2 separate regions of the Homo sapiens genome follow, and region 2 is linked to region 1. The links come from fine-mapping of genetic effects on gene expression. A gene starts in region 1. The other region holds a variant in brackets. All regions are shown on one strand. Distances are from middle to middle. Region 1 holds the start of ZNF446 (zinc finger protein 446). Region 2 holds the start of ZNF132 (zinc finger protein 132).

The links.
Region 2: its variant is fine-mapped to the expression of ZNF446 in whole blood (TOPMed, PIP above 0.99).

The regions. Positions count from the first base shown.
Region 1 is chr19:58,474,321-58,479,689 of GRCh38, forward strand. It overlaps ZNF446 (zinc finger protein 446), which reads left to right and starts at 2,032. Exons shown (of 7, transcript NM_017908.4): 1 at 2,032-2,184; 2 at 2,859-3,240; 3 at 3,317-3,506; 4 at 3,767-3,861; 5 at 5,323-5,369. The coding sequence starts at 2,899. It overlaps ZNF324 (zinc finger protein 324), which reads left to right. Exons shown (of 4, transcript NM_014347.3): 4 at 1-1,116. RefSeq lists enhancers at 1,121-1,210, 1,271-1,330, 1,571-1,820, 1,642-1,936, 2,091-2,290.
Region 2 is chr19:58,435,817-58,441,185 of GRCh38, forward strand. ZNF132 (zinc finger protein 132) reads right to left here and starts at 4,337. Exons shown (of 3, transcript NM_003433.4): 1 at 3,943-4,337; 2 at 1,231-1,399. The coding sequence starts at 4,005. It overlaps ZNF132-DT (ZNF132 divergent transcript), which reads left to right and starts at 4,632. Exons shown (of 1, transcript NR_186311.1): 1 at 4,632-5,369. It also overlaps a transcript of ZNF324B not described here. RefSeq lists enhancers at 4,003-4,513, 4,746-4,875, 5,025-5,369. The variant C/A (reference allele first, on the strand shown) is at 2,618.

The sequences.
Region 1 (5,369 bases):
AACAAGTAGATACCCAGAGAGTCACGTGAAATCATTTCTATGCCTCTGACAGACGCTTCTTGAGCGAAGTTTCTGCCCTGAGCCCGCCTGACCCCTTAGGCTGGGCTCAGTACCCTACCTTGTCTTCCCACCAGCCGCCTCCCTCCATCAAGTTCCTTTCCACGTCTGCTTGTGCCCCTGTTGTCCCTCAGTTTGTCCACCCTCCTCCAATCTTCCCCTCCCCAAACCCATGACTGATCAGTGGCCCCCAACCTAGGCTCCCACCTCCATGCAGGTCTTGGCCCCTCGGCTGACCTCCCTCCAACCTCCCCCTCTGCTCTTAATTTTGAATAGGTAGTGACTGTAAAAGTATCCCTGGGCTTCTATGTCAAAAGGTCAGACTGAACACATGCATCTCACTGGGCTCAGAAATCCACTGAAACCACAGAGGGGAGTATTTAAAACACATAACCCACAAGTATGAGGATGGTGACAGAGGAGTCAGGAGCAATGGCATTCCTAAGCTAGAAGTGGGTGAGAGCTGTCACTAAGTTAGGGAAGGCAAAATACTACGTGGCGACTTGGCGAAGAGGAGAGAGTTCCCACCAGGCTGACTCCAGAACCGCAGAAGGCTGAGAACCAGCAGCCCAGAGACGGGAGACCTATATCAAAGCTGCCTGGGGAACAACTACTGAAGAAGCCCTTAACGCCCCAGTGCTCTCCCCACATGGTGGAGGGTGAAAGTTTTTGTTTTTTTTTCCTTCTGGGACTCTGCATAGTCCCAGAGAAAAGGCCTAAGCACCTCATCCCCAAAAACAACCTGAGGAGGCCGTTGGAAAGCTCCGAGTTGACAAGTCTCATCCACGCACATGCTCGGTGCTTCCAATCGGTGATCAAGACCACTGCTCTTCATCCAGAGCAGGCAGCAGGGATTCCCAGGTATCCAAAGAAACCAAAACAGGCGGTGTAATTTAGGACTGACTAAGTAATGGCTCGGCCACTTTTAAGTGTGGAAGCAAAACTGACCCCACAGATTTAGAAAACTGTAACACTGCTTATTGGGAGAAACTAGTGTCACCCTGGCTAGTTCTGCTCCCCAAATTCAAAGGTAAATAAACGGTTGAGCATGTCCGATCAGCCTGGAGGGAAACCTCCACCCCCGACTTTGTAGGACTGACATCTGAAGACGTCAGAGACTGCGGTCACAACCGTCGGTACCTCCTTAGGGCGCTTAACAGAGGTCAAAGATGGCCCTCGCACCCTCCTGGCGGGAGAAAGCCCAGGCTCAGGGTGGTCTTCTACACCACCGCCTCTCCCGGGTCCACTTGGAAGCGAGTCCCAGCGAACTACTCGACCTAGGAAACCACTGGGCCGCCACTTCCAGCCTCTTCGGAAGTCGAGGCAACGCTCCTGAACGTTGCCACGGGAACAGCTGGAGGCGGGCGGATATGCCCTAGCGTTATCTAGGGGCTGGCCCGGGGAATGGCGTGGGGGCGGCGGGGCCAAGCAAGCGCCACCTCTGATTGGGCAAAACCCCCTCCCCTCACCTGCCAATAGAAACCGGCCCACTGTACAGACGCGCAAGTTTATAACCCGGGAAGAGCTGCTCTCAGAGCGGAGGGAGACCATATAACCCTGGGACTCTGCCGTACCTCCTAGAGGAACAGAGCGCCTCTCAGGCGTCAGAGGCTGCTGCAAATGCGGGTCAGCGGGTCACGGTCGCGCCTGTCTTGCTGATGCTCATGGGAAATGTAGTTCAAAGGGCATGGGCGGTGCCTTCGGTGCAGGCGAGAGATTGGTCAGCGCGGCGTCGCCGGGGCAACACCCGGCTGAGGCGCCCCGCGTTGTGCGGCGCCACATCCGGGAAGCGGCCTCCAAGCAACCGCTCCGGGTTGAGGTGAGCGCAGGCTGCCAGAGTGGGCGCAGCCTTTCCACCCCGTGGGAGGGCTTGGGGTCGCCCTCTGGGGCCTGAACGGCTCCTGCTGTCGGCGCCCTGGAGGGCCCGCCCACTTCCCGACAGGCCGCGCGCGTCACCTCAGCCTTCGCTCAGGCCTTTCCTACCCTCAACGCCGTTCCGGGGGGCCGGGCCTGGCAAGTCCTCTTGGAACGCCTCCCTCTTGCCTTCCCCTTTTGGGGACAGATCCCGAAGTTCGAGCATCCCTCGGATAGGCCGGGTGTCAGGCCTGGTCTCTCAGGCCCGTCCAGGTGGGCGTCTTTCACTGCAGACCTTCAGGGCCGGGATGCTGTGGCCATCCCTCGACTCCGCGCAACGTGGAGCTTTGGCCCCGTTTTTCTTGGCCTTTGCTTTTCGTTTTCACATGCACGGGCCCCGGCAGTGTGAGTCGCCCACGGCTCGCTGTGGTCAGCGAGCACGATGTCCACGTGCCCCCTCCCCAGAGCCATTCCTAAAGGAGGTCCCACCCAGTCAACCTCCCCGAGATTGTGGAGGGCGACTCGTCCCCGTACATTACAGCCTGGCCCCACCTTCTACCCGCCCACCCTGGTCCACTCTCCTCGCACCTCGGCTAGACACTGTGGCTCCTCAGCCTGGCGCTGGAACTCTGTGATGACTGTCTTTCTCCACCTCTTTAGCGTCATCTCCCAGCAGTCCCCTGCTGGACCCAACTGTTTGCAATTTCCAGGAAGCTCCCTGGACACCTTGCGTCCAAGCATTTGTCCCTGAGGCTTCCTCCTGCTCTCATTTGCCATCATTGTTTGGGTCCTGTGACCCTCCTCCTTCCATGAAGCTTTCTTGGCCTTATCTCTTCTGGCCTCAGAGTACACTTGGTCCTGGTCTCAGCCCCCTGGGCTGAGCCTGGTGTCTGCCTTCCCCTGGCCAGATTCTCTTGGCTGACATTCCGACCCTTCCTTTTCTGTAGGCCCATCTTGACGATTCCAAGACCACCCCCTTGAGCAAGAATGCCATCCCCTCTGGGTCCCCCATGCCTGCCCGTCATGGACCCAGAGACCACCCTTGAGGAGCCTGAGACTGCCCGCCTCCGCTTCCGAGGGTTCTGCTACCAGGAGGTGGCAGGTCCCCGAGAAGCCCTGGCCCGGCTGCGTGAGCTGTGTTGCCAGTGGCTGCAGCCTGAGGCACACTCCAAGGAGCAGATGCTGGAGATGCTGGTGCTGGAGCAGTTCCTGGGCACACTGCCTCCCGAGATCCAGGCCTGGGTGCGCGGTCAGCGGCCAGGCAGTCCTGAGGAGGCCGCTGCCCTAGTCGAAGGACTGCAGCATGACCCTGGGCAACTGTTGGGCTGGGTGAGTGTGGCTGGCATCAGCTTCTTGGAGGGATAGACCCTGGCTAGAGCCATTGTGACCTACCTCTTCTCCTCAGATCACAGCCCATGTCCTGAAGCAGGAGGTGCTCCCTGCAGCCCAGAAGACAGAGGAACCACTTGGGAGCCCCCACCCCTCAGGGACAGTGGAGTCCCCTGGGGAAGGTCCCCAGGACACCAGAATAGAGGGGTCTGTCCAGCTCAGCTGCAGTGTGAAGGAGGAGCCCAATGTCGATGGACAGGAAGTGGGTGAGGTTGGGGTCCCACCAGAGATGAGGGACTCCTGGAGGAAGTGTGGACATTCCTGGCTAGGGTGGGAGTCCCAGGAGAGGTGTGTCAAGGCTGGGACTCCTGAAGTGAATGTGGATGTCCCTGTCTGGGATGGGGACCTGGGAGGCAGGAGCCAAGGGCTGGCTACGTGCCATGTCACACAGCAGAGGAGCTCCTCATCTGCCATGGCTCATGTGGGCAGCCCCTGACACCACCCTTCCATCTGCCCCACTTTTCAGCACCCTCCAGCCCTCCACTTGCAGCACAGTCCCCTGAGGGGAACCATGGACACCAAGAACCAGCCTCCACATCCTTCCACCCACCCAGGATTCAGGTGAGCAGCCCCAAGTGGGAAGTATAGGCCCCAGGTGTGAGAAGGGACTGTCCCCATGGCTGCCCTCTGCCTGGTGGTTTTCCAGGCTCCTTGACTAGTGGCTCTTTGCTTCCCAGAAGTGGAGTCTGTAAAAGCTGTACCCCTCCACAGGACCTGGGGCAGAGGGACAGACTGGTGATCTATTATTGAAAAGGATTTGGGGCTGGACATGGTGGCTTACACCTGTAATCCTAGCACTTTGGGAGGCTGAGGTGAGCGGATCACCTGAGGTCAGGAGCTCGAGACCAGCCTGACCAATGTGGTGAAACCCTGTATCTACTAAAGATACAAAAATTAGCCAGAAGTGGTGGCAGGCGCCTGTAATCCCAGCTACTAGGGAGGGTGAGGCAGGACAATTGCTTGAACCCAGGAGGCAGAGGATGCAGTGAGCCGAGATTGTGCCACTGCGCTCCAGCCTGGTCAACAAGAGCAAAATTGTGTGTCAAAAACAAAAAAAAAAAAAAGGATTTGGGCCTCAAGCCATGGAAACCCAGTTTAGAGTGGCTGGAACTAGTGGGCTTGGCTTCCTCACCTCCAGAGAAGTCAGCTGGGAGGTTTGCTGCTCCCAGAGGTCCTGAGCCAGACCTGGGGATTTGAACTTTTGTGTGTAGCTGGGGAGGGGAGAAGATGACCAGCTGTGGCAGGACTCCCCCCACACCTGAGACCAGATGGAGACACTCTCCCTGGGAAATGCCCGAAGTCCCTTCTCTCCTAGGGGTTTCTTCAGAGGCCACCTGTTAGGCCTGGAAGCTCAGCTTGAGGCCTCTTCTACCTGGATCGCTTGGTTCCCAAGTGTGGGTAGCAAGGTCTTTTCCTCTCCCGGCTCCTCTAACAACTCCACTGGGGAGCTTCAGCAGCAACATTGCTGGTTGAGATGTGTTTCGAGGCTAAGAAGTCCTTCCAGGCTCCCTCCACAGCCCCATGGCACAGTCAGAAAGTGAGGCAGGGTGGGTAGGCTGCACTTCCCAGTGTCCTCACCTCCAGCCAGCACCATCTCTAGCTGTGGCTCCTCACAGCTGCCGCCTTCCTGCCCCTGGACTTGCCACAGCTTGTCCCTCAGGATTATTTTTCCCAACCCAGCAAAGCCCCAGATGATGGGACTCAGGCAGCAAGGAGGGCTGACCCCCAATCAGGGAGTTCATTCCTCGATAAAGTCACTCAGGTCCCTGTGATGCTGCCAAACCTGCCCTCTGAGCAGGATGGTGTAGTAGAGGGGGATGAGTGCTGGCAGCAGCACTGGTCAGGTGATCTGAAGGAGAACCTCTGCACTTAACAAACACACACCTTGAGATCATTCTCAGCAGGAGGGGCAGATGAGGCGTAGGTAACCTGCTGACTCTTCCGGGTAATAGGTAAGAATGTGAACCAGACAGGGCAGGGAAGGGGTGGAAAGACGCCTACAGTGATGGGCCACATCCGCAGGAGGAGTGGGGGCTGCTGGACCGGTCACAGAAGGAACTGTACTGGGA
Region 2 (5,369 bases), 39 kb before region 1:
GTTGGTCTCAAACTCCTGGGCTCAAGTGATCCTCCTGCCTCAGCCTCCTGAGTAGACGGATTATAGGCACCTTGCCCAGCTTCTATAGCAGCATTTTTTTCTAACACCTAAAAAATGGAAACAAGCCAAATGCTCATCCACTGGTAAATGGATAAACAAACTGTAGTCTTTCTATACACTGGAATATTTGGCTATAAAAAAGAATGAAATATTGATACATGCTACAACATTGATGAACTTCAAAAACATGCTAAGAGAAAGCCAGTCACAGAAAAATACATAGTATTCTATAAAATGTCTAGGAAACGTAAATCTATATAGTCAGAAAGTAGATTAGTGGTTGCCTAGGACCGGGGGGAAAGGGATAAGGGAACATGGGGAGTGACAGCTAATGGGACTGCTAATAGGACCTACAGTTTCTCTTTAGGTGATGAAAACATGCTAAAATTACATTATAGCAATGATTATACCATGTGAAAACATATAGAAATCACTAGACTGTGTACTTTAAAAGGTGAATTGTATGGTTTATCTTAATAAAGCTGTTTTTAAAAAATATCTCACTGGGGGCTGGGCGTGGTGGCTCACGCCTGTAATCCCAGCACTTTGGGAGGCTGAGGTGGGTGGATCACGAGGTCAGGAGATTGAGACCATCCTGGCTAACATGGTGAAACCCCCTCTCTACTGAAAATACAAAAAAAATTAGCTGGGTGTGGTGGCAGGCACCTGTAGTCCCAGCTACTTGGGAGGCTGAGGCAGGAGAATGGCGTGAACCTGGGAGGCAGAGCTTGCAGTAAGCTGAGATCACGCCACTGCACTCCAGCCTGGGGGACAGAGCAAGACTCCATCTCAAAAAAAAAAAAAAAAAAAAAAAAAGGAAAAAAAAATCTCATTGGGAAAGAGACAGAATCTGGGCATGACCTCATACTGGGTAACCCGACCAGGGATTGGTGAATCTCAGTGGGATCTGTTAGGCAGACTGGAGGTGTCTGATCCCCAACCTTTGCCTCCACAAGGCTCCTGGGCAACAGCTATTAGGAAAGCTCATGAGGCTGCTCAGAGAGAGACAGGGGAAGTACACACAGCAGAACCTCAGCACCCCAGCACCTACAACAGGAAACCCGAGAAGGAAGCAGTACCCATGATCTGGCTTTGGGATGAACAGAGCTTTCTATGGGGAAAAGACACAAGGCATAAGGTAGTCATCACCATGCTGAGACAGGGCATTACCAAGTGAGGTCACAAGCTCAAGGTTTTCCAGCATCACACTGTGGTACAGGTGCCTCTGGGCTGCATCAAGGAGCTCCCACTCCTCTTGGGAGAAGTATACAGCCACATCTTCAAAGGTTACCATGCTCTTCAATGTGGGGACAGCTGAGCCACAGGGCCAAGAAGTATGCTGACAAAGAAACAAACAATTGGTCAAATGGAAATATGCAGGACCTTGCTGTGTGACTCAGAATCCTGATACATCTACCACTAATATCTCTTTTTCTTATGATCCTCTCAGTCCACCCACTACTCACCCATCCACAGCTTATCTTCTTCCTCAGGGCCCCCACCTAACATGCCCTGGAATTAATGGTGCCCCTCTCTCCTAGTAGTCCCACTGGTCACTGTATCCAGGCCAACCCAACCTAGAGGAACAATAGGCAGGTGGGCAGATGGATGCTTCCTCCTCCCTCCTGCTGGCCAATTTTCCTTGTGTCTTCTGGCTCATACCTCCCAAACATAAGAAAATTTGGGCTTCCCTTTCTTAAGCCTCTTGTACCAGGGCCATGGGCCCAATGGTTCACATTCTCTCACCTTTACATGTCACTCCTCAGACCATACAGTTCTTATATTTCCAACCCCTCCCTGTTCACACTGTAGGCATTCTCCCTAGCATCTCACCATGCACATGGCATACCTGACAGATGCAACCGGGATCCATTCCTGGTCCAAGCCAGCTACAGAGCTCCAAAAACCCCACTGCAAGAGGCAGTCATAGCCCCTCAAGTCAATGCCTCCCCTGCCAGCCCTGTTCCTTCAACCATCAGCTGCCCAGAACCATAAGCAGATCTCAAATATCTCTTCCCTCTGATATCTTTGCCTTTGTATGTGTTGTCTCCTCCCCAGTCATAGCTGTCCTTGCTCTTCCTAACACTCAAATCCAAGATCCACTGGCCCCCACCTTGGCTTGGGGACTCAGCTTAGGCTGACCCTTTCTGATCTTGCCACTCCACCAGCCTGACAAAAACCCCAGGACCCTATTTAAGAAGAGATAACATGCCCTGACCACAAGAAGGATGGCCGCAACAATGTAGTGAGCTGTAGAGAAGCAAATCAACCTAAACCAAAGCCCAACTCTCATCCTACTTTTGCCGCTATGCTTCACTGTTGTCCTAGACCTACTCTCTGCTCAGGAGGCTCAGCCACTATCTTGAACCCAACCCACAACTGCATGCAGTGTCCACACACAAGCATCCATCCCTTGGATGTTTCCAGCCTAAACCCGACATAATTTCATAATCACATGTTTAGTGGTCTACTTGGCACCTCAATTTGGTAGTGTCTGGGACATCTCAAATACAACATGGCCAAAATCCAACTCTTTATCTTCCCCCTGAAATCTACT[C/A]CTCACACCAACTTCCACATCTGAAAGATCTAAGGTCAATTTTTTTTTTTTTTTTTTTGAGACAGAGTCTCGCTCTGTCACCCAGGTTGGAGTGCAGTGGCGCGATCTTGGCTCACTGCAAGCTCCGCCTCCCGGGTTCAAGCCATTCTCCTGCCTCAGCCTCCCGAGTAGCTGGGACTACAGGCACCCACCACCACGCCTGACTAATTTTTTGTATTTTTAGTAGAGATGGGGTTTCACCGTGTTAGCCAGGATGGTCTCAATCTCCTGACCTAGTGATCCACCTGCCTCGGCCTCCCAAAGTGCTGGGATTACAGGCGTGAGCCACCACGCCCGGCAATTTTTTTTTTTTTTTAAGACAGAGTCTCGCTCTGTCACTCAGGCTGGAGCGCAGTGGCACGATCTCAGCTCAATGCAACCTCCATCTCCCAGATTCAAACAGTTCTTCTGCCTCAGTTTCCCAAGTTGCTGGGATTACAGGTGCACACTACCATGTCCTGGCTAATTTTTCTGTATTTTTAGTAGAGGTGGGGTTTCGCCACGTTGGCCAGGCTGGTCTTGAACTCCTGACCTCAAGTGATCTGGCCGCCTTGGCCTCCCAAAGTGCTGGGATTACAAGTGTGAGCCACTGCACTCAGCCTTAGGTCAATCTTAACATTTCACTTTCTTTCACTGTCCCACATCAGGTAATCCATGGCCCAGTTTGGGCAGATTCAGAAGCCAACCATCTGTCCTACCTCCACGGGCACCCCTCTGTCCAGCTACCCAAAGCACACATCTGGACCACATCTGTCAGCTCCTCACTGGCCTTCCTGCTCCACCATCACCATCCCTCCAGTCTGCTGCCCACTAGGCATCCATAGGGCGTCTGTTAAGACTGGAGTCAGAGCACCTACTTCCTCTACTCCAAACCTTCCATGGCTCCCACCACCATCAGAATAGAGGTCCAGCTCCTCAGGCTGCCATTCCAGGCCTAACTATTGGTTTCCCTTCCCTGTTTCCACCAGACTAAATGGAGACCGGCAGTCCCCAGAATGCTTCCATTTCATCACCACTAAACAAGGTACACATGCTGGTCACTGTCCCTGGGACAGCCTTCCAGATCTCATTCCACAGGATTCCAGAAATGGGAATCCCTCGATATAACCCCTTGCCTGGATTCAGGATGGTAAGGGTAAGTGACTCCCAGGGCAGGGCCCAGGACCCACGTGTGAGGACAGGACACGATCAAGAGTCCCAGGACACCAACATCCCCTCTATCTGGGCTTCAGGATCCTGAGGGCCGGAATCCCAGCGGGTGAGGGCCTGGGGCACACTCCACTTACCTGCGCCGGGCCCATCAGCAACGCTGGCAACCCCATTAGAACCTGTGGGCTGGGCAGGGCCATAACAGGAGGCCCAGGGCTAGCCCTGCCGCTGGGCCGAACCCTCACACTTCCGCTGGGTGACGGTCGCACTCAGGACCTGTCTTCCCAAATGCAAAATGCGCGCAAGGCCTCTGGGCACCGCAGGGACGAAGGCTGGGTATGGAGACCCTGGAGACGCGTGGCGCTGGCTCCACTTTCGGGAACACCTTGGCTCATAAAAGCAGAGTAATTAGCCGGGCACTATGGTGCGTGTGAAGGCGCGGTGACGGTCCCTGCACCCACTCCCGTGCCCTGGTGTGGCTCCAGAGGCCTGCTGTAGCCCAACCCACCAGCAGCAAAATGAGGACCGCAATGGCGGCGCCGGAAGTCCCGCCTCTCAATGACAGCTCGGACTTGCCACTGGTCCGAGCTTTCATTGGCTCAAGGATCCCCGCCGTCTATGACGCTATTTCCCTATGCCCGTCACGCTACTGCTAGGTCGTTGCCAAGGTGATTGAGGAATGGCGTTTATTGCGTCGCTGCTCAGGCAACGCAAACTACATTATCCAGAAGGACCCTCGCGGTGCCTCAGGGCTGGCCATTGGCAGCCGAGGAGACAGGCACTTCCGGGCGGAGTGTAAGACGCTGGCCAATCACAGCCTGGCAGCGGGACTTCCGTCGTCGTCCTCGGACCATCACTTTGGCATTTCTCGATTTTGTCTGCTTCTGAAGGGACCGCGTTGTCAGGCGAGGGACGGAATCTTGGAGGCTCCCTGGGCCCATGGAAACAGGAGCGAGGAAGGCACGAGAGTCGGGGAAGTTCCGCCTTCTTGACATACAAGCGCCCCCACCGCGGCGAATATCGCCCCTGAGCCCAGTGTTCGCCCCCCACAACACCGCACCCCCCTTCCCCACCCTGTGCCTTAGATAAAGCCGGCCCAGTGGGACCCTCAGGTTGCACCGCGCGGAGGTGTCCGCGGCTCTCGGGAGTCGTCGCCCTTGGCGTTATGTTGGCTTTAGGGAGCGCGAGGCCGAGGCCAAGAAAAGCTACGCATTGGGAGGTCTTGACCCAGTGTGCGCCCGGCTGTAGGCATGGAACGTGCGCCAAAGGTCTCCTGGCACCCACTCCGCTGGACTCAGCACCATTGTCCTAAGTCTCCGATTGAGAAGTATCTGCCCCAGGTCCTCTGCGGGCCCCACTGAACAGTGTGGAGCGTTCACAGGTTGGGGGTCACCATTTCAGAATCCAGTTTGTTGAGACGTGGAGGGTACAGGAGGAGGGATCTGCATATGCGAAGACTTGGACTTGACCCTGACCTGAGCGTTCAGGCAGGCTCTCATGCCCCCTTGGCAGCGAGTGGAGAGCGTAAGAGGAGTCCTGCCTCTCCTGGCACACCGAGGGCGCC